Homo sapiens: one gene and its partners. The protein of the gene in region 4 interacts with the protein of the main gene of each other region in a pairwise test. Each region holds a gene or a part of one and is shown on either strand. Other genes may lie near its edges.

What was found.
Region 1: the proteins of TFG (region 4) and SMUG1 interact in binary tests that used the Homo sapiens proteins (3 or more experiments, as listed by UniProt).
Region 2: the proteins of TFG (region 4) and KRTAP26-1 interact in binary tests that used the Homo sapiens proteins (3 or more experiments, as listed by UniProt).
Region 3: the proteins of TFG (region 4) and ZMYM5 interact in binary tests that used the Homo sapiens proteins (3 or more experiments, as listed by UniProt).

Annotation. Positions count from the first base shown.
Region 1 is NC_000012.12:54,184,995-54,194,648, reverse strand, and holds the start of SMUG1 (single-strand selective monofunctional uracil DNA glycosylase), read left to right. Parts: upstream 1-5,663; 5' UTR 5,664-5,698; exon of another isoform or gene 5,699-6,746; 5' UTR 6,747-6,830; intron 6,831-7,353; exon of another isoform or gene 7,354-7,603; intron 7,604-7,637; exon of another isoform or gene 7,638-7,756; intron 7,757-9,654.
Region 2 is NC_000021.9:30,317,052-30,325,733, reverse strand, and holds KRTAP26-1 (keratin-associated protein 26-1), read left to right. Parts: upstream 1-5,418; 5' UTR 5,419-5,698; coding exon 5,699-6,331; 3' UTR 6,332-6,610; downstream 6,611-8,682. UniProt on the Homo sapiens protein: In the hair cortex, hair keratin intermediate filaments are embedded in an interfilamentous matrix, consisting of hair keratin-associated proteins (KRTAP), which are essential for the formation of a rigid and resistant hair shaft through their extensive disulfide bond cross-linking with abundant cysteine residues of hair keratins.
Region 3 is NC_000013.11:19,822,982-19,825,649, reverse strand, and holds the end of ZMYM5 (zinc finger MYM-type protein 5), read left to right. Parts: intron 1-414; coding exon 415-1,173; 3' UTR 1,174-2,168; downstream 2,169-2,668. UniProt on the Homo sapiens protein: Functions as a transcriptional regulator.
Region 4 is NC_000003.12:100,711,472-100,721,072, forward strand, and holds part of TFG (protein TFG), read left to right. Parts: intron 1-2,171; 5' UTR 2,172-2,214; coding exon 2,215-2,398; intron 2,399-8,503; coding exon 8,504-8,587; intron 8,588-9,601. UniProt on the Homo sapiens protein: Plays a role in the normal dynamic function of the endoplasmic reticulum (ER) and its associated microtubules. Required for secretory cargo traffic from the endoplasmic reticulum to the Golgi apparatus.

The DNA of each region.
Region 1 (9,654 bases), on a different chromosome or scaffold from region 4:
TAATCCCAGCACTTTGGGAGGCTGAGGCAGGCAGATCACCTGAGGTCAGGAGTTCAAGACCAGCCTGGCCAACATAGTGAAACCCTGTCTCTTCTAAAAATATAAAAATTAGCCGGGCGTGGTGGCAGGTGCCTGTAATCCCAGCTACTCAGGAGGCTGAGGCAGGAGAATCCCTTGAACCTGGGAGGCGGAGGTTGCAGTGAGCCGACATTGTGCCACTGCACTCCAGCCTGGGTGACAGAGCAAAACTCTGTCTCAAAAAAGAAAAAAAAAAGTATGTCCCTCAAAGTGTTGCTGAGAGGAGTAAAGGAAACAATCCACATAAAGCACTCAGGGTGGTGTCTGGTGTGGACAAAGCACTCACTAACGGTTAGTTATTGTCACTATCACCCTTACCACTATTCTGAAAGATGTGGAATGGAGGACAGAGACAGAGAGAGGGATCACCAGAGAGATGAGAGGGGCAGTATGGGTGGGAAGGAAAGGACAGGTTCAAGAGGGCTGCAGGAGCAAGAGAAGGCAAATGACAGAGCCAGGGCCAGAGGCAAGGAAATTGTCTTTTGGGAACATTGCAGGGGAAGGAGCAGAGCTCAGAAGAATCACCCTAGGTTCAAGTTCCTGCTCTGTGACTGGTTCCCTGGGAGTGCAGGGCAAGGCAGGGCTGGGCCTCGGTGTTGAGTAGGCTGGAAGCTAGGATTCTTGGGTCGTCCTCCCACTTGGTCCCATGGCCACTCTCTCAGACTCATCTTGATCCTCTTCTAGTTGCTCAATTTGGTTCAACCTGTGGGAGATGCTCCTCCCATTCTCCAAGTCTCACTTCCATCCTTCCTGCTAAAGGACTTGGGGATCAGTCCCATTCCCTTGTCTGTCTGTCTATCTGATGTCTGTGTGGTCCCTCAGGATAATTGCTCTGGACAACTCTAACACCACTCAGACAGATTGTCCGGCCTCCTGGCCCTGACATCTCCCACCACTGCATCAAGCCAAATTACTCGGCCCCCCCAAGCCCCGGGCTCTGGTGAAATCCGATTAGTGAGGAGAGAGCTGCACTGAGCTGACAGCTCCTCCGATAATTGCTTCCCAAGTAAGTGATGCAAATCAGCCCATCCAGCCTATTCCTGCTCCTCTCTTGGGGACCCAGGCGTCCAGGCCCCAGGAGATGGAGGACACCAGAGTTGAGGAGACCTAGACGCTGTCATCTTCCTCCAGTTAAGTAGGCATAATCCATAAAGCTAGGTTGTGCTGCCTTGGGGCTGAGGTGTGCGTAGCAGGGTAGCGAGGCTGAGCCAGGGACCCCACTGGCTCTGCATTTCTGTCTTAACTGAGAGGGTGTCACTTTGTCACCTTATTCTCACCCCTTGGAGAATAATCCCATTTCTTGTAAGGTAGATGAAGGCAGAGATATAGAAGATACAGAGACAGCGAGATGGCTGAACCTGTTGAGAAACAAATCAGGCAGGTGCGGTGGCTTACACCCATAATCCCAACATTTTGGGAGGCCGAGGTGGGAAGATCACTTGAGCCCAGCAGTTCAAGACCAGCTTGAGCAACATAGCAAGACCCTGTCTCTACAAAAAAAATTTTTAAATTAGCTGGGTGTGGTGGTGCGCACCTGTAGTCCCAGCTACTGGAGAGGCTGAGGCGGGAGGACTGCTTGAGCCTAGGAGGTCGAGAGTGCAGTGAGTCATGATCATGCCACTGCATTCCAGAGTGAGACCCTGTCTCAAAAAAAAAAAAAAAAAAAAAAAAAGGACACAAATGGATGAACTCACAGCCTAGCTCCTCTGGTTGTGGGCCCTGCAGATAGCTTTCTCTCTTTGTAAGTGCCCCTCCTCACTAGGCTGAGGAAAAGACATGGAGTGTTAAGTCCCCACAGATGGAATGGGGAGGCATGGGGAATCTGATCAAGTCTGGAGACTTTTGCATCTGTGCCAAGGACATGTCCTTGGGATGCAGTGGCCCTTGCTTAACTCACACATCAAGGAGCCCTTTTCCCTTCCCCAAATCAGGGCCCTTTAAAGGGCCTGTTAATGCTTCTTCCTTAATGCATTTCCTTCCTACATCTTTACTTCAGGTTCTTTCTTGCTGTGACCTCCTTATCCCAACTTCTGCTGACCTTGGAGACCTGAAGAGTTACTTTCCTTGCAATCCTGAACTTCCAACTCCAAACCTAACCCTGCATGCAGGTCACTGTCTTTGGGAAATCTACAGGATGAGCTCCCCAGTCTTGTCCTCCGTGCTTGTGTGTCTGATAGGGCTTCATGGACTGGGTCTTGGGTACTCAGACTATCATCTGCCTGAGACCCTGGCAGAGCAACAGCAATAACTACCCTTTGTGGAGCCCAAATTCTGTAATAAGCACTTAATGTAATTAAGTCATTTAAACATCACAAAAGAAGATAGAGATTACAATGATTATCCCATTTTACAACTGAGATAACTGAGGCACAGAGAAATTAAGTAGCATGCCCAAGGTCACCATGAGTAAGTGGCAGAGCTTGGATTCAAACGCAGCAGTCTGATTCCAGAGCCCAAAGTCCTGAGGCCTCTGCTATGCTGTCTTCACTGTCCTATGCTCTTTTGATGTTTGTTGGGCTAATCGGGACAGGACCCAGTGTAGTGGAAGTGGGGAAGGTGGCTACACTGAAAGTTAAACACCAGAACCCCCTTTGGGGCTCCCCATGTCAGAAACAGTGAGTGGGAGCTGAACAGGGTGAAACTTAGTATCTATGAAGGGGGAAACATGGCCTTCACCTTCTCCAATTCCCGACCTTTGTTTTGTGCAGTGGGAGGCCCCGCAGCTAGACAGCCCTTCCCCGTGAGAAGCGGCGAGGCAAGGGAAAGGCTGAAAGATCCGCCTAGCAGCCCAAGTGAGCAGAGTCGGAGCTAGGACCCAAAGAGGCCGATAGATGGCGCTCATGGCCCAACACAGCTCCAGCAGCCCGAGGAAACAAAAAAAAAAAAAAAAAAACAAGTGAGCCGGTTAACCCCTTCCCTCCCGGGCTCAGGACAGAGGGGCTGGCTGGTGGGTATGCCTGGAGCCCTGCCCCAGGACCGGTGACTCAACTCTCTAGGCTCTTACCCAGGCGATAACCTGGGTCATCTTCTGTTCCTGCCCCACAAGGCTCTACCCGTAAATCACAGTCAGCAGCCTCCTGAAGACTTCCCAGAAGACATGAAGACTAATAAATGGAAGAGACTGGTTGGAAGGGCTGCACCCAAGCCCATGTTTCATCTCTTGGGCTCTATCTCTTGAAAGCCTCAGGGTCCCTGTTTCTAAGCACGCCTACTTCAGGAGAGCGCCTCACCTCCATCTTTCCTGGGAGTGACTCACTGGGCGGGGAGGAATAGCATGGACTAGAGAGAGAGAAGGCCCCAGGCCCCTCTGACATTGGCTGTAGGGACTCACTGTGGGCTGCCTAAGCCTCAGTTTCTCCTTATATCTGGACTTCCTATCTCTGGGTTCCCTGGGGTGGATGGGCTTATAGGGACAGAAACAGTTATTCAAGTCTTCTAGGAAATTGAAATCAGGGGTGGGGAGGTGGAGGTCCTGGGGGATCTCTGCTTGCCTGTTACTCATTTCACTCATTATTGTTCTGCCAGAAGCAGACTTTGAATGTGGAGGGGCTGCCAAGATGACAAACTAGAACAGAAGTGCTGGGCAAGCAAGTGACAGAGGGGTCGGGGTGGACAGGAGGGTTGTCCAAGGGATGGTGGAAATCCTGGAATTTTTAAGCAATGAGATGACACCACAATGAGGTCCCTTCACCTTATTTTTGGTCAGAAACACAGAAATACATAGACACACAGAGATGGGGGAACTTGTTCTAGAAGCTCAGATTCTCTTATTCCAGTCATTCTAGGGTAAGAAGCAGAAACAGGGAGATGTTCACAGAGGGAGACAGAGACCTGCAGATACAGAGAGAAAGCTACACAAGAGACTAGAAATAGAGATAAATTTACATAAGTAGAGAGGGGCAAATAACATAGGCAGAGAGAGACACAGAGAGGGAGAGGATCTGGTAAAAATTAAAGCTCAGGAAATTATGGGCTTCATGAGGTGGATGATTAATTCCATTTCCAAAGTCTTGCAAGGGTCAGGGTAGTTTCTCACCCTTGATGTCAGCAGGTCACTGCTCACAGCTCCCTGAAGCTCCTACTGCACCCATTAAGTTTTTGTTGATAGGAGATCAGACAAGTCCTGGGAAGGGAATAGCATCCTTTTTCTCTCACTTCTTCCTGTTCTGGGGTTTATAGGTCTCCTTTTCTACCACTCACAGGGAGACCTTGCTTCTGTGATTAGAGCCTTGGCTGTGCTAAGGTGTGTGGAGATTGTGGGGTGGGAGGAATATAGAAGATAACTAACCTTAGGGGGTTCCCAGTCTAATGAAAGTTTTAGAGTCACGACACAGAACCAGACCCAGATAGAGCACAAGAACAAAACTAGGAATAGGACAGATTTGGACATAGATATTGGGATGGGGGAATGGTGGGGGAATGGACTGTTAGGTGCAGCCATGGGATGAGGATTGATCAGGGAAGCCTTCCTGGACAAAGTATTTGAGGGAGAAGATTTGGATGGAAGAGTGATAGCTAACTTTATGTGTCTACTTGAGTGGTCTAAGGGACACCCAGATAGCTGGTAAAACATTATTTCTGGATATGTCTGTGGAGTGTTTCTGGAAGAGATTTGCATTTGAATTGGTAGACTAAGAAGATCACCCTCATTAATATGGGTGGGAACCATCCAATCCCTTGGGGGCCAGTAGAACAAAAGAGTGGAGGAAGGCAAATTCTCTTTCTTCATGAGCTGGGACATCTATTTTACCTGCCTTTGGACATCATTGGAGTTCCTGGTTCTTCGTCCTTCAGGCTCTGGGACTTAGCAGTGAGCCTCCTCCCCTGCTTTGGACTTTCCTGAATTATACCACCTGTTTTCCTGGTTCTCCAGTGTATAGACAGCAGAGCGGGAGACTGTGGGACTTCTTGGCCTCCACAATCCTGTGAGCCAATTCTTGGAATAAATCTCGTCATATAGATAGATATCCTGTTAGTTCTGTTCTCTGGAAAACTCTTGACTAATACTGAGGTTATAGGGTTGGGCAGATAGCAAGGCAGAGAAAGAAGTCAAAATGGTGACACTCTGGAGATGGGCTTGGACAGTAATGGGGGATGCCCCTTGCTAAAAAGTTGTTAGGAGCTACCAGAAATGTCTTCGTGGATGTTCTGTATAAGTAATGGCAGGCTGCAAAGGAGAAGTCTCTTATACCCACGGTGGCAGGGGGCCTAGCAATGGTCTTTAGCTATTGTTAATACCTTCAGGTGGGTGAGGGATTGGGGATGGTTGAAGCTTCCTGATTTGCAATCCCTTTGGGAAAATAGTGAATGAACTTTTGGAAGGGCGATGCCCTTTAGGGATAGAACCCAGGATTTCCTAGGTACTTACAGGCTGTGGCTTTTCACTTCTCAAGACTTCCTGATTTAACGCTGATGGAAAGATTAAACTACAATTCCCAGCGATCTTTAGGGCTAATTTAGTGCGCCTTCCGGGATTGGAGCATTTCCGGCGGAAGTGGCTGCGGGTACGCCAATCTCCTTCCCTAAACAATGTAGACTACGACTCCCACTGTCCTTAGCGCCGGGGGTTGGGTTTGGGGTGGGGGAAAGGAACCGGAAACGGGATGGGGAGCTGGACCAGGTGAGGAAGTAGGGGGCTGGGAATCCGGGACTGTGGGGGCAAGTTGACGGCTCCCAGGGTCGTCGGGGCTGAGCCGAGAGGGTGGTTAGAATTTCTATATTTTGGGGTCCCTCCCTCCGTATGGGGTAAGACTCAGTGCAGGGAGAGCCCAGCCTATGAAACCGCCTGGGAGGTCTGCAGGATCAAGGCTTTCCAGTCGGCCGGAGCCAGCGGGCGCCCCCGGAGGTTTTGTATGGTGCCTTAGTAGTCGGCCCCTTTGGAACCAGATGAAATGGTCTTTTTGAGTTTATGCTTTATTATTATTATTGTTTATTTATTTATTTTTCTGAGACGGAATTTTGCTCTGAATTCCAGGCTGGAGTGCAATGGCGCGATCTCAGCTCACTGCAGCCTCCGCCTCCCGGGTTCAAGCGATTCTTCTGCCTCAGCCTCCCGAGTAGGTGGGATTACAGGCGCGCGCCACCATGCCCAGCTAATTTTTGTATTTAGTAGAGACTGGGTTTCACCATGTTGGTCAGGCTGGTCTCGAAGTCCTGACCTCGTGATCCGCCCGCCTCGGCCTCCCAAAGTGCTCGGATTACGGGTGTGAGCCACCGCGCCCGGCCTATGCATTATTATTATTATTATTATTATTATTATTATTATTATTATTATTTATTATTATTATTATTATTATTATTATTTCGTTTAAGGATATTTATTATTGTCCCTGGACTCCCGGAGTGCCTCCAAAGGACAGGGGAGTGCATATGTGATTTCGATTCCTTCCTCACTTCCCGGATTTGATGTCAGAGAAGTCTGACATCAGTCTGAAGTCGGCCCTTGGTGGTCAGCCTTATCGCTTGGTCCAACTCCGCTGTCTTTGTGCTTAATGTAGTATGACACCGTATTTTATAAAATATCTACATTTCTTAAGCCTCTGGCTCTTGGGGCGACTTTGGGTAGAACTTACAAGTTCCTCCTTTGGGTTCTCTTAGTGTTTTGTTCCGGGTATTAAAGCTCACATCACACTGTATTACAGTTAGTTGTTTATTTGCCCTCACAGCAGATTATGAGCTTACAGAAAGCCTGGCCTACATTTTACTCTTTTTGGATTTCTTCCTCATCAAGAGACTGCTGCAGTGCCTGTCATGTAAGAGACTCATAAGTATTGAAAAAAAAAATGAGTTAACAGGTGGTAGGTTGGATGGAGTATGTGATTTTCCATAGAGAAGAGAGTTAAATGAGTTGCTCAAGAGAACCTTCTTAGAGATGAAACAGGAGTAGAATTCAAATCAATTGACTTCCAGCCTGTGGCTCTTGCTATGAGATCAGGCTTTGAAGTTATGGAACAATGAAAGTAGTATCTTGCCACTCTTTTCCCCAGCCTTGCTGTTTCCAACACAGGTGTCTAAATGTCAAAGGTGGGCTCAAGACTTCTCGAGATTCTAGAGCTGGAGCAGCCAATCTGCTAATGTTGGTGTTGCATGGGGAGATGCAAAGCAAGGTCCCCTGAAACACTGGCGTTCTCCACAGCACCCTTCTCAGCTTTTGTATGAGCCCAGTTTGTCCTGGGTAGCCACCTGGACAACAGATCAGTTAAAGACTACTGAGACAGTCAGGGAAGGACTTCCTAAGTTGGGCCTCTGATTTCTTTTCTCTCCCACTTCCCCTAGGCTAGGGTGAGAAAATAGGTTTATCGAGCTGTTGTGTCAACCTTGAGTTCTTATCTTGGAGAAGTCACTCCTGACCCAGGCAGAAAGTTGAGAGGAAGGAATGACAATGGTCCTTGTCGCATGGGAGGCACACATATGATGGGCACAGACCCAGAGTCTGGAAAACAAGCAGAGTGCAAAGTGGGCAGCTAAGCCTTGAGTGAACTCAGGATATAGAAGTGGAGAAGGATCCATCAGGAGTGCCTCCTTGGTAAAAGCTGTTTATTTTATTTTTATATTTACAGATGGGGTCTCATTATGTCAGCCAGGCTGGTCTTGAACTCCTGGCCTCAAGCAATTCTTCTGCCTTGGCCTCTCAAAGTGCTGGGATTACAGGCATGAGCCACTGTGCCCAGCACAGAAGGTAGTTTTAAACAAAAGTGAAAAAGAAGATGGACATTGCTGAGCAGGTGTTTGTTGAGTACCTAATAAGGGCCAGGACCTTGGGCTTATGGAGGGAGATTGAACAAGGCCTGGCTCTTGATCTGCCCAAGTTTAGCTGGGGAGGCAAAAGGAATTCATTAAGACGACGGTAACCATGGTGACACACAGTGGTTCTCAGCCTTCACCAACCATCAGAATCACCCTGGGAAGCTTGTTTAAAATACAGATTCCCAGGCTGGGCACGGTAGCTCACGTTTGTAATCCCAGCACTTTGGGAGGCTGAGGCAGGCAGATCATGAGGTCAGGAGTTCGAGACCAGCCTGACCAACATGGTGAAACCCTGTCTCTACTGAAAATACGAAAATTAGCCGGGTGTGGTGCTGCGCACCTGTAATCCCAGTACCCAGGAGGCTAAGGTGGGAGAATCACTTGAACCCGGGAGGCAGAGGTTGCAGTGAGCTGAGATCGCGCCACTGCACTCCAGTCTGGGCGACAGAGCAAGATTCTGTCTCAAAAAAAAAACAAAACAAAACAAAACAAAAAACACAGATTCCCAGGCCTCACACGGGACCTACTTGTGTTGGGGGTGGGGTTGGGACACTATGGCAAATACTGCAGTGTTCTGAGGAGGGAAGACTTTATCAAAGGGATGGTTTGAGCTGCATTTTGAAGGATGGGAGTGATTTGGATATGTGGACAGGTTGGGGAATCAACAGTCCTAGTTGACTGGATGACTGCTGGATGATGTCCTGGTTGACTTCAGGAGTGTATTTGGTTGGACTGTAGAAATGGTATGTGCAAGGTTTTGGGAGTTGAGGCAGGAAAGGCATTTTGAAAATGTGAGTAGAATGGTCAGGTTGGAACACTGGGTTTGAATGGGAGTGGAGTGAAGCAATGGCCTTTGCAGTTTACAAAGCTTGCTGTCATGTTCCTGCCCCCTCCCTTCTCCTTCCTCCCACCTCCCTTCTCTCTTCCCTTTCTTCTTCCTCTCCCATTTCTTTTCTCCCTTCACCTAAACATAACATCTCATTCCATCCTTACGTCTGTTTGTTTGTTTTGAGACAGTCTCCCTCTGTAGCCCAGGCTGGAGTGCAGTGGCACAATCTCGGCTCACTGCAACCTCTGCCTCCCAGGTCCTGGTTCAAGCAATTCTCCTGCCTCAGCCTCCCATGTAGCTGGAATTACAGGCACGTGCCACCATGCCCAGCTAATTTTTGTATTTTTAGTTGAGACGGGGTTTCACCATGTTGGCCAGGTTGATCTTGAACTCCTGACCTCGTGATCCACCTGCCTCAGCCTCCCAAAGTACTGGGATTACAGGCATGAGCTGTTGCGCCCGGCAAATTTATTTATTTATTTATTTATTTATTTATTTATTTATTTATTTTTTATTTTATTTTTTTTTGAGATGGAGTCTTGCTCTTTTGCCCAGGCTTGAGTGCAGTGGCACGATCTTGGCTCACTGCAACCTCAGCCTCCCGGGTTCAGGCAGTTCTCCCTGCCTCAGCCTCCCGAGTAGCTGGGATTACAGGTGCCCACCACAACGCCCAGCTAATTTTTTTTTTTTGAGAGAGAGTTTCACTGTTGTTGCCCGTGCTGGAGTGCAATGGCACGATCTTGGCTCACCGCAACCTCCACCTTTCAGGTTCAAATGATTCTGCCTCAGCCTCCAGAGTAGCCGGGATTACAGGCACGTACCACCATGCCTGACTAATTTGTATTTTTAGTAGAGGTGGGAGTTTCTCCATTTTGGTCAGGCTGGTCTCGAACTCCCGACCTCAGGTGATCTGCCCACCTCAGCCTCCTAAAGTGCTGGGATTACAGGCTTGAGCCACCACGCCCAGCATGCCCAGCTAATTTTTGTAATTTTTAGTAGAG
Region 2 (8,682 bases), on a different chromosome or scaffold from region 4:
TCATAATAAATATCCTCATATATTTATATATATTCTATTAGTTTTGATCCTCTGAAGAACCCTAATACAGCTAAAATAATTTGTTAATAGATACATAATATAAAAAGATGTAATTATGACATCAATAACAAAATATGTGTGTGTGGGGAAGAAGTGTAGAACTTCTGTATGTGATCAAAGTGAAATTATTGTCAGCTTAAAATAAACAGTTAGAAGATGTTTTATGTAAGCCTTATGGTGATCACCAAGAATAAGCTGTTGTAAACACATTAAAATTAAAAGAATCAAAGCATACCACTAAGAAAAAATCGTCAAATCAAAAAGAACAAGGAATCACAAAACAGACAGAAAACAATTAAAATGGCAGTAGTAAGTTCTTGGCAGCAGTAAAGTAATCAAGAATTACTTTAAATGTAAATGGATTTAAATATCCACTTAAAAAATACAGGGTGGCTGAATATATTTTTTTAAAAGATCCAACTAAAATGCTGTCTACAAGAGACTCAATTGAGAGTTTAGAACTCACATAGGCTGAAAGTGAAAGTTATTCCATGAAAATGGTAACCAAATGAGAGCAGTGGTGGCTAGATCTTCTACTGTGCAAAATAGTCTTTACACCAAAAACTATCATAAGGACAAAGAAGGTCATTATATCATGAAAAAGGAGTCCATTCATAAAGAGGATATAACAATCACAAATACATATGCACCCAACATTGGAATACCTAAATATAAAAACAAATATTAACAGAACTGAGGGGAGAAATTGACAGTAGTATGATAATCACAGGAGACTTTGATACCCCGGTTTCAACAGTGGATACATCACCCAGACAGAAGATCAAAAAGGAAACAGCAGACTTACCTAACAGATTTATACAAAACATTTCATCCAACAGGAGAAGAATACACATTCTTTTCTAGCACACACTAAATATTATCCAGGATAGATTATGGGTTAGCCCCCAAAAAAGTCTTAGGGAAATTAAAATCATATTAAACATCCAACCATAATGATATTAAACCACCAAACTAGAAATCAGTAACAAGAGGAAAATTGAAAAATTCACAAATATGTGAAAATTAAACAACACACTACTGAACAACCAATAAATCAAAGAAAAAATCAAAAGAGAAATTAAAAAATATTGAGACAATGAAAATGGAAGCACAACATTCCAAAACTTTGGAATGCATCGAAAACCATTTTAAGATGTTTACAGCAAAAAATACCTACCTGAAAAAAGAAAGATTTCAAACAACTTAACTTCTCAAGAAGTTAGAGAAAGAATAACAAACTAAGCCCAAAGTCAGCAGAAGAAAAAAAAATAGAGCAGAAAAAAGTCAAATAGAAAATTTTTTATAAAATTAGGAAGATTTGTAGAAGTAAGGCTTGTTGTTTTTTAAACATTTCCAAATTTATTTTACAAAACCAGCATTACCCTGATACTAGTGTTGGTCAAGGATAATAAAAGATAAAACAGAAATGAAAACATAAACTGGAAGCCAATATGCCTGATTAAGATAGATGCAAAAGTCCTCAACAAAATACTAGTAAGCAGGATTCAATGGCACATTCAAAGGATGATACAACATGATTAAGTGAATTTTATTCCTGGGAGGCTAGGATGATTCAACACATGCATATCAATGAATGTGATACACCAAATTAGCAGAAAGAAGGATAAAAGTTATCATCCCTATGGATGTAGAAAAAGCATTTGACAGAATTCAACAAACTTTCACGATAAAGACTTTAACAAATTAGGCACAGAAGGAATATACTTCAACATAACAAAGTCCATATATGACAGACTCACAGGTGAAACACACAATGGTGAAAACCTAAAAGCTTTTCTCCCTAGATCAGGAACAAGACAAGGATGCCCACTCTTTCTACTTCTATTCAATATAGTACTAGAAGTCCTAGCCAGAGCAATTAGTCAGAAAAAAAAAAAAAAAGAAAATCACCCAAATCATAACGAAGTAAAATTGTCTCTGTTTGCATGTGACACGATTCTATACATTAGAAACCCTAAAGACTCCACCAAAAAACTATTAGAACTAGTAAATATTAACAGGCAACCCAAAAAAGTAGGAGAGAATCTTTACTGGGAAGTAGAGAAGGGCCAGACAAGTGTCAGAACAATTCTCTGTTGACAAAGAGAAATCATCCACTTTTTTGAGAAAGAGAATCATATGATGAAATTAATTTCATGAGTATTATTTCAAATGCATTATTTAGGCAAAATAGAAGACCATAGGGACAGAAGTCAAAGGTGGCAGTAGGAAATTCACTGAAGGAGAACAAAAAAGCCCAACTTAAATCATTGCCATGATAACAGAAAGAAAAAAATGGAAAGAAATATATAATTTTAGAAGATAAAGGGAGAAAAGCATAACAGGTTTTCCCACTTTCCAATCTATGCTGCAAATTAACCTCAGCACTCTCTTCTTGAAACACATTACTGGATCACCACACCTTTAGAACAATATCTTAACTACTTCCCCCAGTAATTTCAACATGTGAATATGAGTTTGCTTCTTAGAATCCTTCACTGGGAAGCTCTATGTTGTCATTTTCTCTACCTTGACATCTTCTTCCATAGCCTAAAGTGTTTTCCTCTTCTCCAAAGCCCCTTCCATCTTTCAAAATTAATATCAAATGTTAAATTTTTGGTAAGGTGAATGAACTATGTTTGCTCTTCTCTGTACATTACTTACGGAACTTAGTAAACACTGACATGGGTTATGTACCTGTCTTATCACGCTTACCAGATAGTGTACATCTGAGAGCAGAAACCAATTTTATGTTGGTTCCATTGCCAGCATCTATCATAATGTTTTGCACATACTACATGCTCAATAATATTTGCTGAATGGATGAGTTAAAAGTACCTTGTTTATTGGCACAACTTTATTGTTGAAATGTTCTGGGGATTTTTTGTCTCCAAGACAGAGAAACTCAGAATTCTCCTTCTACAGTAGGAGAGACAAAGATCCATGGTTTATTAAAAAAAAAAAAAAAAAAAAAAAAAAAGCAACGCCATGGGTAAATCTGGGAAATCACACAGGATGCCCAGTTCCTCCGATTATCCCTGGGCTCTTAACTCAGAAGAGAAGTCTGAAACATGTAGTTTATAGGATCCTGCTAATGAGGTACCTGGTATTATGCCCAAATAAGCAATTCTCTATTAGTGACACAGCCACTATGAAATAATTTTAGTTCAACCTATATTACATGAAGGACAACTTATATTCAGGGTACTTCACTTTCTGAAGATCTGTTGATATTTTTGCAATTTTACCCCCCCACCGCCCCCCCCCCCCCACACACACACGAGAAACTCATGGTGGTGCTCTAAAGAAATTAAACCCAAGGTCGTACTCTCCAGAATGGGTTAAGAACGCCAAAGCAAGAAAATAGATTACTCTTGTATAACGTTTTACAGTTTATTTTAACTTTTAATGACATCTCAATATATTCCTGAAATGTCACTGAAAAGTAGATACTATTAATATTTCCATAAAATTATACTGATAGTGACTGGGGAGCAGAGCAATTATGCAAATTACCCAATTCACACGGTTATTGGTTATTAAATGATAGTATCAATGCATCTCTATGTAATGCCATATTGGATAGAGAAAAACTGTTTGGGGAGTCAAGGAGCCTTTTTTCAGATGTTTTTCGTAATACCTATTACTGCAACTTTCTAAAGCTCAAGTTTTCTCGTATGAGTACTTGAAATAGTAAGATCTACTGTATAGAATTGTGAGGACAAAGTGAATGGCACATGTGGGCACCCACAGCACAAGGTTCTTCAGAGTAGGCATTCCATGAATGCCAGTTTCCTCTTATTCCACACCCCTTCTCTTCATGGAAAACCATCCATGTATACATAGAACATGTAGTATATACATCTATCCACACATACACACAAGCGTATTGATGTACTAATGATACAGATGTTGGGCTCTTGTTTATATTAGAGAAGAGCAGACATAAAAAGGATCAACATACAATTTCATAAGCATTCAGCTAAATATGACTGTACCTATTACTAACGCCATTCAGCTGATGCAACCAGGATTTTACAAGAAGACTCTAGCAGCTGTATACACAGAGTATTAGGTGATGTCCGAAGTATACAAAGTATCCGGTTATACAAACAGTATTAGGTGATGAGGGCCTGGGGTTGGGGGTTGGAGTGAGTGGGGCTTTCTCAAATACATCAGGTACAAATCGTCTGACCTAAAATACTGAGATAAATTCAACATGTTAGTACAGGACCTCCGGGATTATACCATTTTATTTTTATATTTCTCCCCCAGTAGTAAAATAGTCTAGTGTTGTCTCATTGAGAAACCAACTTTCTGTTTCAGAGATTTCACTCCTCCAGGACAGAGGGAGACTGGATAAGCACAAGTATGTCCCTCAAACACCAAAATAGAAGAAAGTGTTATGATTTAAATTGACTAGCCAAAAGGAATTGGAACTTAGAGCCAGCAGATAATTTAAAATCCCATTAAAATAGCTACTGGAGCCACTGGGTATGTCAGTATGAGAAAAATATAGAGGGATAGTTGAAACTAACTAAAATCATACATTTTTTAAAACAATTTTACCAGAAATACATATTCTCAAATGACCTTTAAAGTACTAAAACTTAGGAAAACAATAATTTATCCTGATGCTTTTCCCTATGTAAAGCAGTTTAGAAGCTCCTTTTTGGAAATTGACATCAAGGCCAATGTAGAAAGCAAAATAAATTCATGTCATAATCAGTGTATTTTTTAACCAAGAACAATATTTTTTCAGTTGGAATATGAGAAACCATGCAATACATAACCTTGAAATAATCATGAAAAATGTCAAGATGCCTGACTTTCTTTAAGAGGTCTACTTCTCTGCTTTTGTTCACAGTAGGATACATAATTTTAACTTGGCCCAACTTCATTATCTATATTCAAGAATATCTTAAACATAAGCCAAGGTTTCAGCTTCACTCAGCTTATTTATTTATTGAAATGACTAAAATGAGCACATATTTTTGAATAAAGATATTTTGGTAGAAAGTCAAGTCTGAATAGAATTCTGAAATAAAGCAAATCACAACTTAGAAAAATAAATTCTAACCAAGCAAAACATATTGAAATTGTCCATATTTCTGTCATATAGTTTGCAAGGATTTTCATTTTCTCTTATACTTGTTCCAAGTTACTCACTTCTGGCAATTTCCAAGAAGAATAGAATTTTTCTTCAAAAAGATGTAAGTTCTCACTGTTTCAAAGAAGTTGCTACAACTTTCAAAGACAATTCTAAGAGAGGAATCTTAAGAATGTTTGTGCAATGGTGGTTATAATTGGAATAAGCACATAGGCTTTAAAATGTGTCTGTTTTGTTTGGATAATTTAAGAAGGATAGATCCTATTAAAACTCAGTCGCATTGGTTTATAGATAGACGTAATCAATGGATGGCATTGCAAGGAGCATCCAGTTTTATGGAGGGTGGAAGCCTCACTTCCTTGGCTATAATAAAGAGTTCTGATGCATCTTCATACAACAAGAGGAAGAGTCTGCACGCAGAAGCACCACCTTCTAGGGATAAATAAAGGGTCAAGCTAAGGAAGGGCAGAACAAACTTCAGACACTCACTTCTTTGCCTCAACTTCAGCCTGCTCTCACAACCTCACTATGTCTTGCCCCAACTACTGCTCGGGAAACTCCAACTCAGGATCTCTCAGAACCTCCCGCCATATTCCTCTCACCTCCATCGACCTCTGCCCTACCAGCGTGAGCTGTGGAGATGTCCTCTACTTACCCACTAGCTCTCAAGACCATACCTGGGTCACAGACAACTGCCAAGAGACCTGCGGTGAACCAACCAGCTGCCAGCCGGTCCACTGTGAGACCGGCAATCTTGAAACCTCTTGCGGTTCTTCCACTGCTTACTACGTGCCCAGGCCTTGCCAAGGAAGCAGTTTTCTTCCTGCTTCTTTCTTCTCCAGTTCCTGCCTTCCAGTATCCTGTAGACCACAGAGGTATGTGTCCAGCGGCTGTCGTCCACTGAGGCCGCTGCTCAATAGTTACCAGCCCATAGGAGACTGTGTGCCCAATGCCTATCGCCCCCAATTCTGCTTGTCCAAGAGTTGCCAGCCCCAAAACCTCCTCACTTCTGGATGCCAACCCTCGAGTTGCTTGGCCTATCGTCCTCAAAGTCTTCACGTTGTGTCCAGCAGCCTCAGACCTCTGGGGCCTCTGTTCAGTGGTTGCCAACCTCTGACCCATGTGTTCAGCACGTGTCGTCCATCTTGCTCTGGACTGTGAAACCAGCAGCTTCTTTGTTCCAGTGAATAATCACTCTGAGCATCCACAACAAAAATTCAAACTCCATGGACTTTTGCTTCTTTGCTAGTAGCAACTGATGTTTCTTAGTTTTACTGTGCCTGATCTAATGCAAGCTGCTTCTCTCGCATGTTTTATCTTGTTTTCATCTTTCCTTGACATCAAAAAAATTAGTTTACAATGCTATTCAATGTTGCTCTGGTCTGGGAAGAATGTATTTGTTTTGCACTATAATAAATGCGATTAAGTCCAAATTAAGAATCTGGTTCAGCGCTTTGTGTTTCATGACTTAATTTCAACACAGAAATAACCAACGTCAATTGCTTGCAAGATGACTGAGCTGGACAAGTGATACTCAACCATATATTCTTACCTGACAGTAGAGGGATTGTTTGATGGTTTATTCCTTAAGCTGCTTTTTAGACTTCTGACCCTATGTACTTGAGAGACCCAAAAAGTCCTTGGGAAAGCTGTTTTGAAAAGGAAAAATTAGGAGTGATGTCTCTTATCTCTCTACCCCATGAACACACTTCCACCAGAATGTTCTTTCTAATTGCAAACCTAACCAAGTTTCTGCTTACGCCTTTGATGGCTTCCTATAATCTATTCCCATAAGATAAATATTCAAACCTCTTAGCATGACACCTAGTTCCCTCACTGTCTTTCTCCCCCATACCTCTCTGGCTTCATGCTCTTTTGCTCAATATTGCAAATAATAAAACTAAGCTCCTGCGATCCTGACTTACACATGGGTCCCCAAACATATGCTTTTTACAGTCATCCATCCTTTTGCATAGGTCATCATCGAGAGCGGTATGTTCTTCAGCTCTGTTTTGAAAACTCATACTTGCTTTTACAAAAACACAGTCTTGAGTTCATTAATTAATCTTTTGATTTATTCAGAAACAAAGGTACTGCTTGCATACTATATGCCAGGCACAAAAGATACTGAGGTGAACAAAACAGTCCTGAACTATCACAGAATTTGCCAGAAGTTATAAGCTATGGGACATGTAACAATTAAAGATACATTTTTTCTCTCACTCAACCTAAAATGTGTGGGGGCATATATTTCATTAATTAAAAGGAAATAAAGTTTTAAAAGCCTGAATATTTACCTTTTTGAGGAACTGGAATAGCTAGAAAAGCTAGAAACTGTATCACTGTGCAAGAAAGTGATTGGCAGGCAGCTCGCAGTAACTCCCAGCTGTTCCCTTTAGACAGGGCACACACTTCTGGTTCTCAGTTCAATCTTGCCCTAGAGACTTCCTGACAATGAAGCAGAATGCCAGTTCCACTTACTATCATGATCATGCCACTGTTGTTAATTTCATTCTGGTTCATTATTTGCCTTATTTGCTTGCTCTCCTGGATATTTTGATTTTGTGACATCTGTATCCCCTATTTTTTGAAGCCTTTCCCCGGCCCTCTCTGTGCCTCTTACCCTAATCACACATTGGCTCAGCCTGAATTTTATCTCAGCCATATGTCTACTGTTAATCTTGTTGAACTGTTATTTTTAACATCATTTTAAATGAGATTTTAGTTAACATATAACATACATAACTAATTTTTGCATGTTCTTGAACTGTAAAATGAAATTATAAAGTATTTACCCATTGGTGTCTGTCTTCTTGTACTAAATATTATGTGTGATTTTTCCATATTGTTATATGTACCAGTAGTCTTTTAATTTTTTGTGTACATAATATTCAAGGTTAAAACACCAAAATATATTTATACATTCTTTTGTTGATGAGCCTTTGGGTTGTTTCTAGTTTGGATCTATTAGAATTAGTGTACAGAATATTCTTGTATTCTTCGGCTATATTTTAATACACATCTGTATCTATTTCTATTCTGCAATATGTGTAAGGGTGGAATTAAGTTATGTAGGATGTGCTTGTTCAGCTCTATTTTACACCATTACAAAGTTATCCTTGCAGTTATGCTAATATTGACTTCTACTATCAGAGTATGAGAATTCCAGTTGTTCTACACCCTCACCAACACTTGAAGTTGTCAGCCTATTTACATTTAGCACTTCTAGTGAGAATGTAATTCTAAAAAATGTTTGTTTTGTTTTTAATTTTCTTGATGGTCCATTGAATTGAGCACTTTTTAAATAAAATGTTTCTTGTTTCTTGGCCATTTAAATTTTTTGCTTGAAGTAACATCCATGTCATTTGTCCCTATTTTTAGTAGGTTTGTCTGTCTTCAGGATTGGATAGTTCTTCACATGGTCTAGATATTAACTCTTTGTTGAGTATACATATTTAGCTTAACTTCTTCCATATCATTCCTTGTCTTTTTATGCCCTTAATGGTGTATTT
Region 3 (2,668 bases), on a different chromosome or scaffold from region 4:
TTTGGGACAGGGTCTCACTCTTTCGCCCAGACTGGAGTGCAGTGGCGCGATCTCAGCTCAGCTCAACCTCTGCCTCCTGGGTTCAGGCGATTCTCCTGCCTCAGCCTCCAGAGGAGCTGGGATTACAGGCGCATGCCACTGTGGCCCGGCTAATTTTTGTATTTTTAGTAGAGACAGGGTTTCACCATATTGGCCAGACTTGTTCTCGAACTCCTGACCTCAAATGATCCATCCACCTTGGCCTCCCAAAGTGCTGGGATTACAGGCATGAACCACCGCACCCGACCGTCGTCGTCTTTTTGATTGGCATTTCTTTGATGCCTAATGATGAGCATGTGCTTATTGAGCATTTGAATATACATTAATTTTTAAAAGTTTAACCTAAAATAAAATTATAATCCTCTTTGTCCTCAGATGATGGAAACAAAATCAAAAAAATTAACAGCATCAGAAAATAGAAAAAGGAATGCTTTTAGAGAAGAAAATGAGAAACAATTATATGGATCGTCAAATACACTTTTGAAAAAAATAGAGGGAATCCCAGAAAAAAAGGAAAAGACTTCACAGCTACAGCTTTCAGTAGAATGTGGCACGGATACATTACTGATCCAAGAGAATGTGAATTTACCTCCTTCTTCCACGTCAACCATAGCTGATACATTTCAAGAGCAACTGGAAGAGAAAAATTTTGAAGACTCCATTGTACCAGTTGTGCTTTCCGCAGATCCAGGTACGTGGCCCCGAATTTTGAATATTAAACAACGGGACACTCTTGTTGAAAATGTTCCGCCTCAAGTAAGAAATTTTAACTTTCCAAAAGATAATACAGGGAGGAAGTTTTCAGAAACTTATTATACACGGATTCTTCCAAATGGTGAAAAAACCACTAGATCCTGGTTACTTTATTCAACCTCAAAAGATTCTGTGTTTTGTCTATATTGCAAACTCTTTGGGGAAGGAAAAAATCAACTGAAAAATGAAAATGGGTGCAAAGATTGGCAACATTTATCACATATTCTTAGTAAACATGAAGAAAGTGAAATGCACGTCAACAATAGTGTTAAGTACTCAAAATTAAAATCTGATCTGAAAAAAAATAAAGCTATTGATGCTGCAGAACACAGATTATATGAAAATGAGAAAAATGATGGTGTGCTGTTGTTGTACACGTAATATACCTGAGTTGTTTTTTGGCATGATGATCAGAATCTTACATTACTCAGAAAACATCTGTCCTGCAATAGTCAGTACTATTGTGTTGTAAGTCTCCTCTACAGAGTAACTTGCAGCAGTTCCTTAGCAATAAGTATGATAGCAAATAAATAGCAAAGAATGTTTCCATTCTAAATCTAAAACTAATTAGATTCAATCATCATTAGGCAATGACTTCATTAGGCAATGAAGATTAACAATAGGTAATTGTTAATCTTCAAAATCTATCAATTTACACCTATTTAAAAATTGGCATTTAATGACTGCCATTTGATGGGTTTGGTTAATATTCTGTTCTTGGCCGGGCGCAATGGCTCACGCCTGTAATCCAAGAACTTTGGGAGGCTCAGGCGGGTAGATCAATTGAGGTCAGAAGTTCAAGACCAGCCTGGCCAACGTGGCAAAACCTCGTCTTTACTAAAAATACAAAAATTAGCCAGGTGTGGTGGCACACACCTGTAGTCCCAGCTACTCAGGAGGCTGAGGCAGGAGAATCGCTTGAACCCAGGAGGCAGAGGTTGCAGTGAGCTGAGATTGCACCACTGCAGTCCAGCCTGAGCAACAGAGCGAGAGTCAGTCTCAAAAGAAAGAAAAATATTATGTTCTAATTACCTTGAAAGAGGAAAGAAAGGCTTGAATTGATCAATACCAGTTTGAATAAGATACTTATGTGAACAAGCATTCTCAACATTATTATTAAAGTAAAACTACTCAGTTTACAGAATGGGATCTGAAACTACAGCTTTTTGCTATTAAACCAAATACTTGTGATCTACTTTGTTTGAGCAAAACAGCATTATTTGTTATGTTAATGATGGTTAATTTCCATTTTATTGGTTTTATGTTTATTTTAATTTGTAAATGTTTTAGCATTTATTATTGTATGTGAACTATATTTACCTATTTTATGTTGATAAAAATATAAAAAATATTAAAATAAGTATATATTAAGTTAACCTTCAAGTGTTATGGGCTTTTTTCTCCCTGTGAAAAGAGATGGCATGCTTGAAATTTGAGATACACCAATGAAAATTAAGGATTTAAGTTATTTTAGATGGTCAGCAGCCCCATCACTGTGTATTTAGTAAATCTCCCTTCTGTTTCTGATTTCTGATGTCAATTTTGTAATATATTAAATTTTTATATACTATTCCTGTGAAACAAAATGGCATATGAGCAGTGACTAGGACAGAAGGTGCGTTCTTGTGGGATGACACTAGGAATACTTGCAGACTCTCAATGATACCAGTGTATATATTTTTGGAATACCCGTGAAAGTAATCCTCATTAACTTCTAACCATTTTGAGTGTTTGTTTGTTTGTTTGTTTTAAATAAAGATGGGGTCTACTATGTTGTCCAAGCTGATCTTCAACTCCTGGTCTCAAGCGATTCTCCCACCTCAGCCTCTCAAAGTGCTGGAATTACAGACTTGAGCTACTATGCCCAGCCACCATT
Region 4 (9,601 bases):
CTTCAAAGCTGGAATTTTTTTCTTAATTAGGAGTGTGTCTGATGGAAGTCACTTCTAGCTACATAAAGAAGGTACAGTGTGAGGGGTCGGATGTAAAAACTGATCTATATTACAGCTTTCTTCTCCCATAATTAAAAAATTTAAACAAAGTCTTTAAATTCTATATGTCAGGCACTTTTCTAGGTGCTGCTGGGAATAGATAGTACCAGCTCACTGAAGCTAAGCACTGGTTCCTTTTACATTATTGCTGGTTTACACTTCTTGTAGGAAGGAGAAGGTAACAAATACATTGATTTATTGAAAGGTCTTTATTACTCTTAGGCTGCCAGAGCAAGCAAGATGGAATATTTACCATCTTGGTGAAGTAATTATACTTTAGAGTTGGCACATAGTAGGTATTTAATAAGTAGTTCCTGAATACCGAAAGCATTGCAGAAGGCATTGCAGAAGGCGAAGAGTTGGTTGTGTGGAGATTTCTGTTAATCACTGTCTTCACGAGAAGTCCATTGTGAGAACTGGCAGATAAAAAGCTAACTGTATTCTTATTTTGCATTAAGATAAGCATGGCATCCCTAGAGTGGAATGCAGTTCACTCTGTTCTGCATTGACCTTAGAGTGTTATATTTAGTTTTAATGACCCATTTCATTGAAGATTTATTAATAAAATATCTGTTGAGAGCATGGTGAGGGGTCTAGAGATATTAATTTAAGGACTAGTTAGATGGAAGGACCTAGCGTATTTATATGAAGAATAGTAGGGCATTAATATATAATATTCATATAATAGGATTCATGAAAACTTTTTTGAAGTACTTGAAGGGTTGATATGTTGGGGGAGTAGGTGAGTGCTTTCACATACCCCGAAAGAATAAAGAATAATTGCAGAGAAGTGTGGTGTTAATGAAATAACAGATTTAAGAGGAGGAAGCAGAAAGCTGCTAGTAGTAAGGCGGGAAGTTGAAACTAGAATGTGGCCAGTAGTAGTTTGTAGGATACCTTGAAAAGTCTCAAGAGATCATTTTCTTGGGGCAGGAGGAGGAAGGAGTTATGCTTGGAAAATGTTCAGCGATTATAGATAACATTCAGGAACATCTTGGCCTTGAGAAGAAGAGATATTAATCCATTATTTTTCCCTTTATTTAATAGCTGTTGAATGACTGTTGTCTGCTAGGCACTGTTGTAGACTCTGGGAATATGGAAAACATAATCGTTTACTTCCTACCATCAAGTGGAAAAGACAATAAAATGTTATAAATTTTTAATGTCTGGTAGTGTTAAGTGCTTTGAAGAAAAATAAAGCAGGATAAGAAGATAATGCCAGGGGAGCCATTTTAAATTAGATGGTTAGGAAAGATCTCTCTCAGTTAACACTTGATAAGGAATCTGAATCATATGAGGGGTATCAGAAAGGGTCAAGACAAAGGGAAAACTTGAAGTATGGGAATAGCAGGGGTGAGTGAAGAAGAGAGGTAGGAAATGAAGTTAAATACTTGGCCAGGGACTGGAGGCCAGATGATTTTATAGGTCTTGCTTTTTGGGATGAGAATGCATTGGAAGGTTTTGAACAGAATGATACTAGGTTTTACTTAACAGTGTTAACTCTGGTGTTCTGAGACTAGATTAAAAGTGGGCAAAGGTAAAAAGCAGGCAGACTGGTTAGGAGTCTTTTCCAGTCATTTAGGCAAGTGATGATGGTGGCTTGAATCAAGTTGATAGCAGTGAAGGTGCTGAAGTGGTTGGACCCCAGAGTTATTTTAAAGGCAGTGGCAACCATATTTTCTTGGCAGTTTGGATGTAAGGTTTGAGAGAGAGAGATCAACCAAGATTTTTTTGTCTTATACAACTCGAAGGAAGATAAAGAAGCCTCTAGGAGAGGCAGGTTTTAGGTGGAAGATCAGGAATTTATTTTTAGATATATTAAGAAAAATCTAAATGGTCATGTCAGATGAACAGTTAAATATGAGAAAAAATAATAGTAGACGTAAAATAAAAGCTTATTTTATTATCCCTACAGTAAAATAATGTTGCCTCCAGACCATTTTAACATAAATATGGTAACATGGGGATAATGAATCTTTTGGAGGCTAGAGTTTCTTAGCATCTAATAGTAGCTTTGCTCTCAACTTTTACGGTATGTTTTGTTGTTTAATTATCAAAACCACTTTTATCAGTCTTTCTCTAGAGTTGTATATATAGAACATCCTGGAGTCCACCATGAACGGACAGTTGGATCTAAGTGGGAAGCTAATCATCAAAGCTCAACTTGGGGAGGATATTCGGCGAATTCCTATTCATAATGAAGATATTACTTATGATGAATTAGTGCTAATGATGCAACGAGTTTTCAGAGGAAAACTTCTGAGTAATGATGAAGTAACAATAAAGTATAAAGATGAAGGTAAGAGTGTTTTTAAAGCTATTTTTTAAAGTCTTTTTAAAAAAAAAAAAAAAAAGACAGAGCCTCTGTTGCCCAGGCTGGAGTACAGTGGTGTGATCATAGCTCAGTGTCACCTCAAACTCCTGGGCTCAAGCAATCCTGCCTCGGCCTCCCAAAGTGCTGGGATTACAGGCATGAACTGCCATGCCTGACCTTAAAGTCTTAAGTATTGTATGTGTTATTTTGCCCATTTTTATTGGACTCTTTCCCATCCTCTCTTCACGGTAGTTGAGACCTCACTTTCTTGTATTGAATGTGATGTTCCTATAGTTACTATAATTCTCTCATCAGTTAAAATTAGCTAAGTGGGGCCGGGCGCAGCAGCTCATGCCTGTAATCCCAGCACTTTGGGAGACCGAGGTAGGCGGATCATTTGAGGTCAGGAGTTCAAGATCAGCCTGGCCAACATGGCGAAACCCTGTCTCTACTAAAAATACCAAAAATTAGCTGGGCGTGGTGGTGTGCGCCTGTAATCCCAACTACTCGGGAGGATGAGGCAGAGAATTACTTGAACCCGGGAGGTGGAGCTTACATTGAGCCAAGATCGTGCCACTGCACTCCAGCCTGGGTGACACAGCAAGACTCCGTCTCAAAAAAAAAAAAATAGCTAATTGGTTTATTAGAAGGGAATTTTAAGTGTTAGAACATTTTCACATACATTTTTTTTACAAGCATTATTTTCTCCTTTTGTCCATATAATTCTGGTTTCTTTTAGCTTAAAAAAATTTTTTTTCTATTCTTATTTCCCGAAATGAAAGGTTTTAGTATGTATTGAATGAAAAAGGATTTTATGGTCAACTAAGTAAGGGAAAGCTGGTTTAAACAAAGACAAAAGTGTTTCTTTATTGTAGGAGTTTTCAGATTATGTAATATGCTTATATACATTTTCAGAAGTTAGTAGTATGCAGTGTTCCCAGACTCATTTGTTGACAAAATTATCTTTATGGAAATAGGTTTTGAATGAAAAATGTTTCGGCAAACACACTGAGTAGAATTATAGTAGTAGACTGTATTTCCTATTCTTCAACCTGCCTTCTTTGTTAATATCTCTGCTGAAATTTTCTCTTTAGGTGGTTACCAGTGTTTTTTACTGTGGAACTTACTTGCAGTGTATTTAATCTTGACCTCACTGTTTAGCACTGCTACCCACACCATCCTTGTTTTTAAATACTTTTACCTCTTAACATCTCTGACACTGCTTAACCTAGTTTTCTTATCACTAACAGTTTTTTCTCTGTCTGTGTTAGGGTTGGGCTTAAAGTAATGCCAGCAGATATAATAGAAATCTTAAAATCTGAGTGGTTTAATAGTTGAGAAATCTTTCAGGGATCCAGGTTGAAAGAAGCTGTTACCTTCAACACATGGCTTATAAGCTCACCATAGGCATTGACATTGGCAAGCAGATGAGTGAAGACAGAGTATGAAGAATCATATGGGAGATTTTACTCACTAGGCCTGATGGTGTTGTATGTCATTTCTGCCCTTATGACATTGGTCAGTACCCAGTTACATGGCTTTGCTAAGATGCAAATGGGTTGGGAAGTATAGTCCCTGGCTGAGCAGCCACTTAGCACAACTTATACTGTGGAGGAGAAGTGTAAATCACTGGTGATCAGTTAAATTGACCATCTAGCTAAAGGTATAATTCTCCTTTGTTTTTGTGATGTGTAGTCTAAGAATACCCAAAACAAATTTTTGAGAGTTGCCCATGTTAAGAAACAATAAAGGATAGTACTTTTTTCCTGTTTTCTTATGCTTATCATACATTGATTTGCACCTCTGTGACTTTGAAATGTGTGTCTTAATTTGATCAGTGAATTTTTTTTTTTTTTGAGACAGGGTCTCACTCTCATCCAGGCTACAGTGCAGTGGCATGATTATAGCTCATCATAACCTTTAACTCCTGTCCCCAGGCAATACTGCCAACCCGGCCTCCCAAAGGCATAAGCCACCATGCCCAGCCTACAATTCAGATTTTTAACTTTTTTTTTTTTTTAGCAAAGTCCCAAGAGTACTTTTTTTTTTAAATTTTGTTTTAATTGACAAATAATAATTGTACATATTTATGGGGTACATAGTAATGTTTCATTACATATAATGGGATTAGATCAGGGTAATTCGCATATCCATCACCTCAAATATTTATTTCTTTGGGTTAGAAACATTCAATATTCTCCTTCTAGCTATTTGAAATTATATAATATGTTATTGTTAACTGTAGTCATCCTATAGTGCTATAGAACACTGGAACTACTTCTATCTAGTTGTACTTTTGTGTCTTTTAATAAATCTCTCCCTATCCCTCTTTTCCCCTACCCTTTGCAGCCTCTACTGTCATCTGTTCTGCTTTTTACTTGTATAAGATCAACTTTTTTTAGCTTCCACATATGAGAGAGAGCATGTGGTATCTTTTTAACTTAATGTCTTCCAGTTCCATCCATGTTGCTGTGAATGACAGGACTTCATTCTTTTTTATGGCTGAATTGTATTCCATTGTGTATATATACCATATTTTCTTTATCAGTTAATCTGTTGTTAGACACTTAGGTTGATTCCATATCTTGACTATTGTGAATAGTGCTGCAGTAAAATGTGAGTGCAGATTTCTCTTCAATATACTGGTTTCCTTTCCTTTAGTTAAATATTCAGTAGTGGCATCGCTGAATTGTGTGTTAGTTCGATTTATAGTTTTTTGAGGAACCTTCATACTGTTCTCCCTAGTGGCTGTACTGTTGACATTCCTACCAATAATGTGTAAGAGTTCCCTTTTCTCTTCATTCTTGCCAGCATTTGTTATTTATCTTTTTGATAATAACCATCCTAACTGGGGTGAACCTTGTTGTGGTCTTCATTTTCCTGATATGTGTGCATTTCCCTGATGATTTGTGATTTTGAGCATTTTTTCATATATTTATTGACCATTTCTATGTCTTTTTTTGAGAAATGTCTGTTCAGATCATTTGCCGATTTTAAAATCGGATTGATTGTTTTTTAGCTGTTGAGATGTTTGAGTTCCTTCTATATTCTGAATATTCATCCTCTGCCAGATGAGTAGTTGTATTTCCTCCCATTCTGTAAGTTCTCTTTTCACTCTTGATTGTTTCCTTTGCTGTGCAGAAAAGTTTTCCAGTTTGAGATAATCATATTTATTTTTGCTTTTATTGACTGCACTTTTGAGGTCTTATTCATGAAATCTTTTCCCGACCTATTAAAGAGGTTATCCTTTTCCTAATGAGTGGTCTTGTCAAAAGTCAGTTGGCTATAGATAACATGGATTATGTTCTTTTGTTCTATGTGTTCTATTGATCTATGTGTTTGTTCTCTTGGTCAATGGGTCTGTTTTTATGTCAGTTCTGTTGGTCTGTGGGTCCGTTTTTGTGCCAGTCCATGCTTATTACAGCTTTGTAGTATATTTTGAGGTCAGTAAGTGTGACACCTTCAGCTTTGTTCTTTGCTCAGTATTGCTTTGACTGTCTGGGGTTGTATGTAGTTCTGTACAAATTTTATGGTTTGTTTTTAAATTTTTATGAATAATTTTATTGGTAGTTTGATAGGGATTGAATTGAATCTGTAAATTGCTTTGAGTAATTTTGTCATTTTAACAATATTTGTTCTTATATAAGCATGGGATGTCATTACATATGTATGCTCTTTGGTTTCTTTCATCAGTGTTTTTTTTTTTTTTTGTAGAGGTTTTTCATCTTCTTGGTTAAACTGCTTCCTAGATATTTAAAAAAATTTTTGTAGCTGTGGTTAATGGGATTGCATTTTTTATTTTTTATTGTATGTGTATAGAAACACTACTTATTTTTGTGTACTTATTTTGTTTCTGGCAGCTTTATTGAATTCATTTATTGGTTCTAAGGGTTTTGGTAGAGTTTTTAGGTTTTTGTTTATATAAGATTATGTCATCTGCAAACAGGGACAGTTTGCTTCCTTCCCAATTTGGATACCTTTTATTTTTTTCTCTTGCATAATTGCTCTGGCTAGTACTTGCTTAACTGTCTTTTTTTTATTTTTTATTTTTTTGTCTTGAGACAGGGTCTTGCTCTGTCTCCCAAGCTGGAGCGCAGTGGTGTGATCATGGCTCATTGAAGCCTTGAACTCCTGGGCTCAAGCAGTCCTTGCAACTCAGCCTCCCGTGTAGCTGGGACTGCAGGCATGTGCCACTGCACTCAGCTTCTTATTCTTAATGTTTATCAAAATGGGGGTCTCACTGTGTTGCCCAGGCTGGTCCTGAACTCCTGGGCTCAAGCGATCCTCCTGCCTTGGCCTGCCAAAGTACTGAGATTACAGGCATGAGCCAGTGTGCCTGGCCTTTAACTGCCTTTTTTCCCACTTGAAGATGCTTTGCCTTTATCTCAAACTGACCTCATTGACTGGCTTTCTCTTAACTACTGTTTAGGGCAAAGGTCAGCAAACATTTTCTTTAATAGATCAGAGAGAATAAATATTGTAGCTTTGTGGGTCACATAAGGCCTCTGTCTCATCTTTTTTTTACAATGTAAAAACCATTTTTCATTCACAGACCTATAACAACACAGGGATTTTGTCCGTTGGTCACAGTTCATGGACCCTTAGCTTGAGGTGTCCTCGTTGTAGTTTGTCTTCCACATTTAGTTACAACTTTGTATTTCATGGTTTTTTTTTTTTTTTTTTTTTTTTTTGAGACAAAGTCTTGCTTTGTCGTTTAGGCTGGAGTACAGTGGGGTGATCTTGGCTCACTGCAGCCTCCACATCCCAGGTTCAAGTGATTCTCCTGCCTCGGCCTCCCAAGTAGCTGGAATTATAGGCACACACCACCACACTCGGCTGATTTTTGTATTTTTAGTAGAGACGGAGTTTCTCCATGTTGGCCAGGCTGGTCTCGAACTCCTGACCTCAGGTGATCCGCCCACCTCAGCCTCCCAAACTGCTGGGATTACAGGTGTGAGCCACCGCACTTGGCCAAAAAGTTTTTGATTGTTTTGATTTGTGTCCGTTAGATTCTGTTAGTAGAGTGGAGGGATGGCTTAGGTAAAGTTCCTGCCATCAGAGATACTCTGTTTCTGTTGTAGGATTCAGAAAAGAAAAAAAGAACAGGAAGTTTTCTTCTTTTACATACATACTTTATTTTCTTTAAAAAATGTGTTTATGAAAATTGAACATTAAACAAGTATGTTATGGGAAGTGGGTCTGGCTATAAGGAGCTAAAAACAGTTATAAAATTCTCAGTTTTGTCATCTTTGCCCAAAATAAATCCAACTAATTAGTGTTAAAGTAGGTGCAGCAGAGCATCCCAGAAGTAGTCTTGTGGCCTCCCCAGGACAGAACTCCTCCCCACCCAACTGTTTGTGAAGACACCCTGCAGAGGTCCCTGATGAACTCCTTGTCTCTGGCTGCTTTTCTGTTCTTGCTTTCTTTAGAGAATGTATTTTTCCCTTAGCCCTTTGAAAGCTTTTGAGACACACAGTTGGTATGCCAATTATAGCATTCTTTATCCCTGAGATCTGGGGGATTTCACGGTCATAAATACACACTGTTTTGAATATATAAATATTTTTCTGGGGAGAGTTGATTGTTTTCATCTTAATATCAAAATGGTCAGTGACCTGAAAGAATTTACTGTCTATCCATTCATTAAAGCAGTTTTGCAACAGTAGTGTTTTACTCTACCTATGATTAAGATTTGAACTTTGGGAAACTTTTTTATTTCTTGGTAAAAGATGTAAATTTTTTGGAATGAAAAGATTTCAGTCTAAACCAACAATTTATGATATTGCTCTCTATGAATCTCTTACTAGTGACTAATAAATATTAAGGCACTTAATGGATTCACTTTAGCTGTATTTTTTCATGTGGATATGTGTAAATACCTTGCCATAAGAGTAATAAGCAAAATTGATTTAGTATATTTTTGAACAAATGCATTTTTGCTAGACCTTTAAAGTTTAAGGTTTCTATGGGAGAGTCCAACTATGTTCTACAATCTACATTTTGGATTTTTAATTTTTACTAGTTTACTGCTTATACAAATCTGAAAATTTAAAAAATTAAAAAACAACCTTTTTTTTTTTTAAATTCCAGATGGAGATCTTATAACAATTTTTGATAGTTCTGACCTTTCCTTTGCAATTCAGTGCAGTAGGATACTGAAACTGACATTATTTGGTGAGTAGTAAACTTTCTAATGAATTTACTATTTTATTCATTGTATTTTAAAGATGTTTGGCTTTTTTCCTTTTAAAGACTCAGGTAAGCAATAACTTATTCAAATATTATTACATTTATTTGTGTTCAGGTAGTTGTTTTAGATTACTTGAAGCTTATGGCTGTGTATGTTTTTAAGAAAATGATAGAAGTTTAATTCAGTAAGAACAGAGTGTTAAGTATGTTTTTTTTGAAATCAGGTATAACTTAGGTATCCCTGGTGCAGTATTATAGTTTTAATTTAGCTGTATTAGAATTTTTAAATTGTAATTATCTTCCTTCACATTACAGTATGTTGTTACTTATTATCAGGGCTTAACATGTAAGTCTGATACTTGAAACCAGTAGTCGCCAACCTTTTTGCACTGGAAACTGGTTTCGTGTAAGACAGTTCTTCTATGGAAGGGGGCAGGAGAAGGTTTGGGGATGAAACTCTTCCACTTTGCATGTGCAATTCACAATAGGGTTCACACTCCTATGTGAATCTAATGCCACTGCTGAACTGACAGGAGGCGGAGCCCACCACTTAACCTCCTGCTGTGCTGCCCAGCCCGGTTTGGTTCCTAACAGGCCACAGAGTAGCACTGGGTTGGGGACCCTTGCTTTAGACAGTATTTCCCGAGGGGTACTTAAAGATTAAAAATAGTTCTGATAAAAACCAATAGAAGACTAATTTTAATCTTTTAGATTTTTTCTTTTAGATCTTAATAGATATGCAAGGCAGAACTCTTAAGGGACAAGATAGAAAAGATTACAGAGTTAAATGGTAGTGTGATTATGTGAAAAATAAAATGTGTACACTTTTTCCGGCTGTTTTGTTGTTTTGTTTAGCATTAATTTTATTTTTTTTTAATTTTGTTGCATGAAACTTAGAGTTCAGTGTGAAATATGATCATGGTCTATTGATTTAATTTGTATCTATTTCATCTCCATCTAGGAAGGATGAATATGAATAATCAGAATTTAAATGTTAAT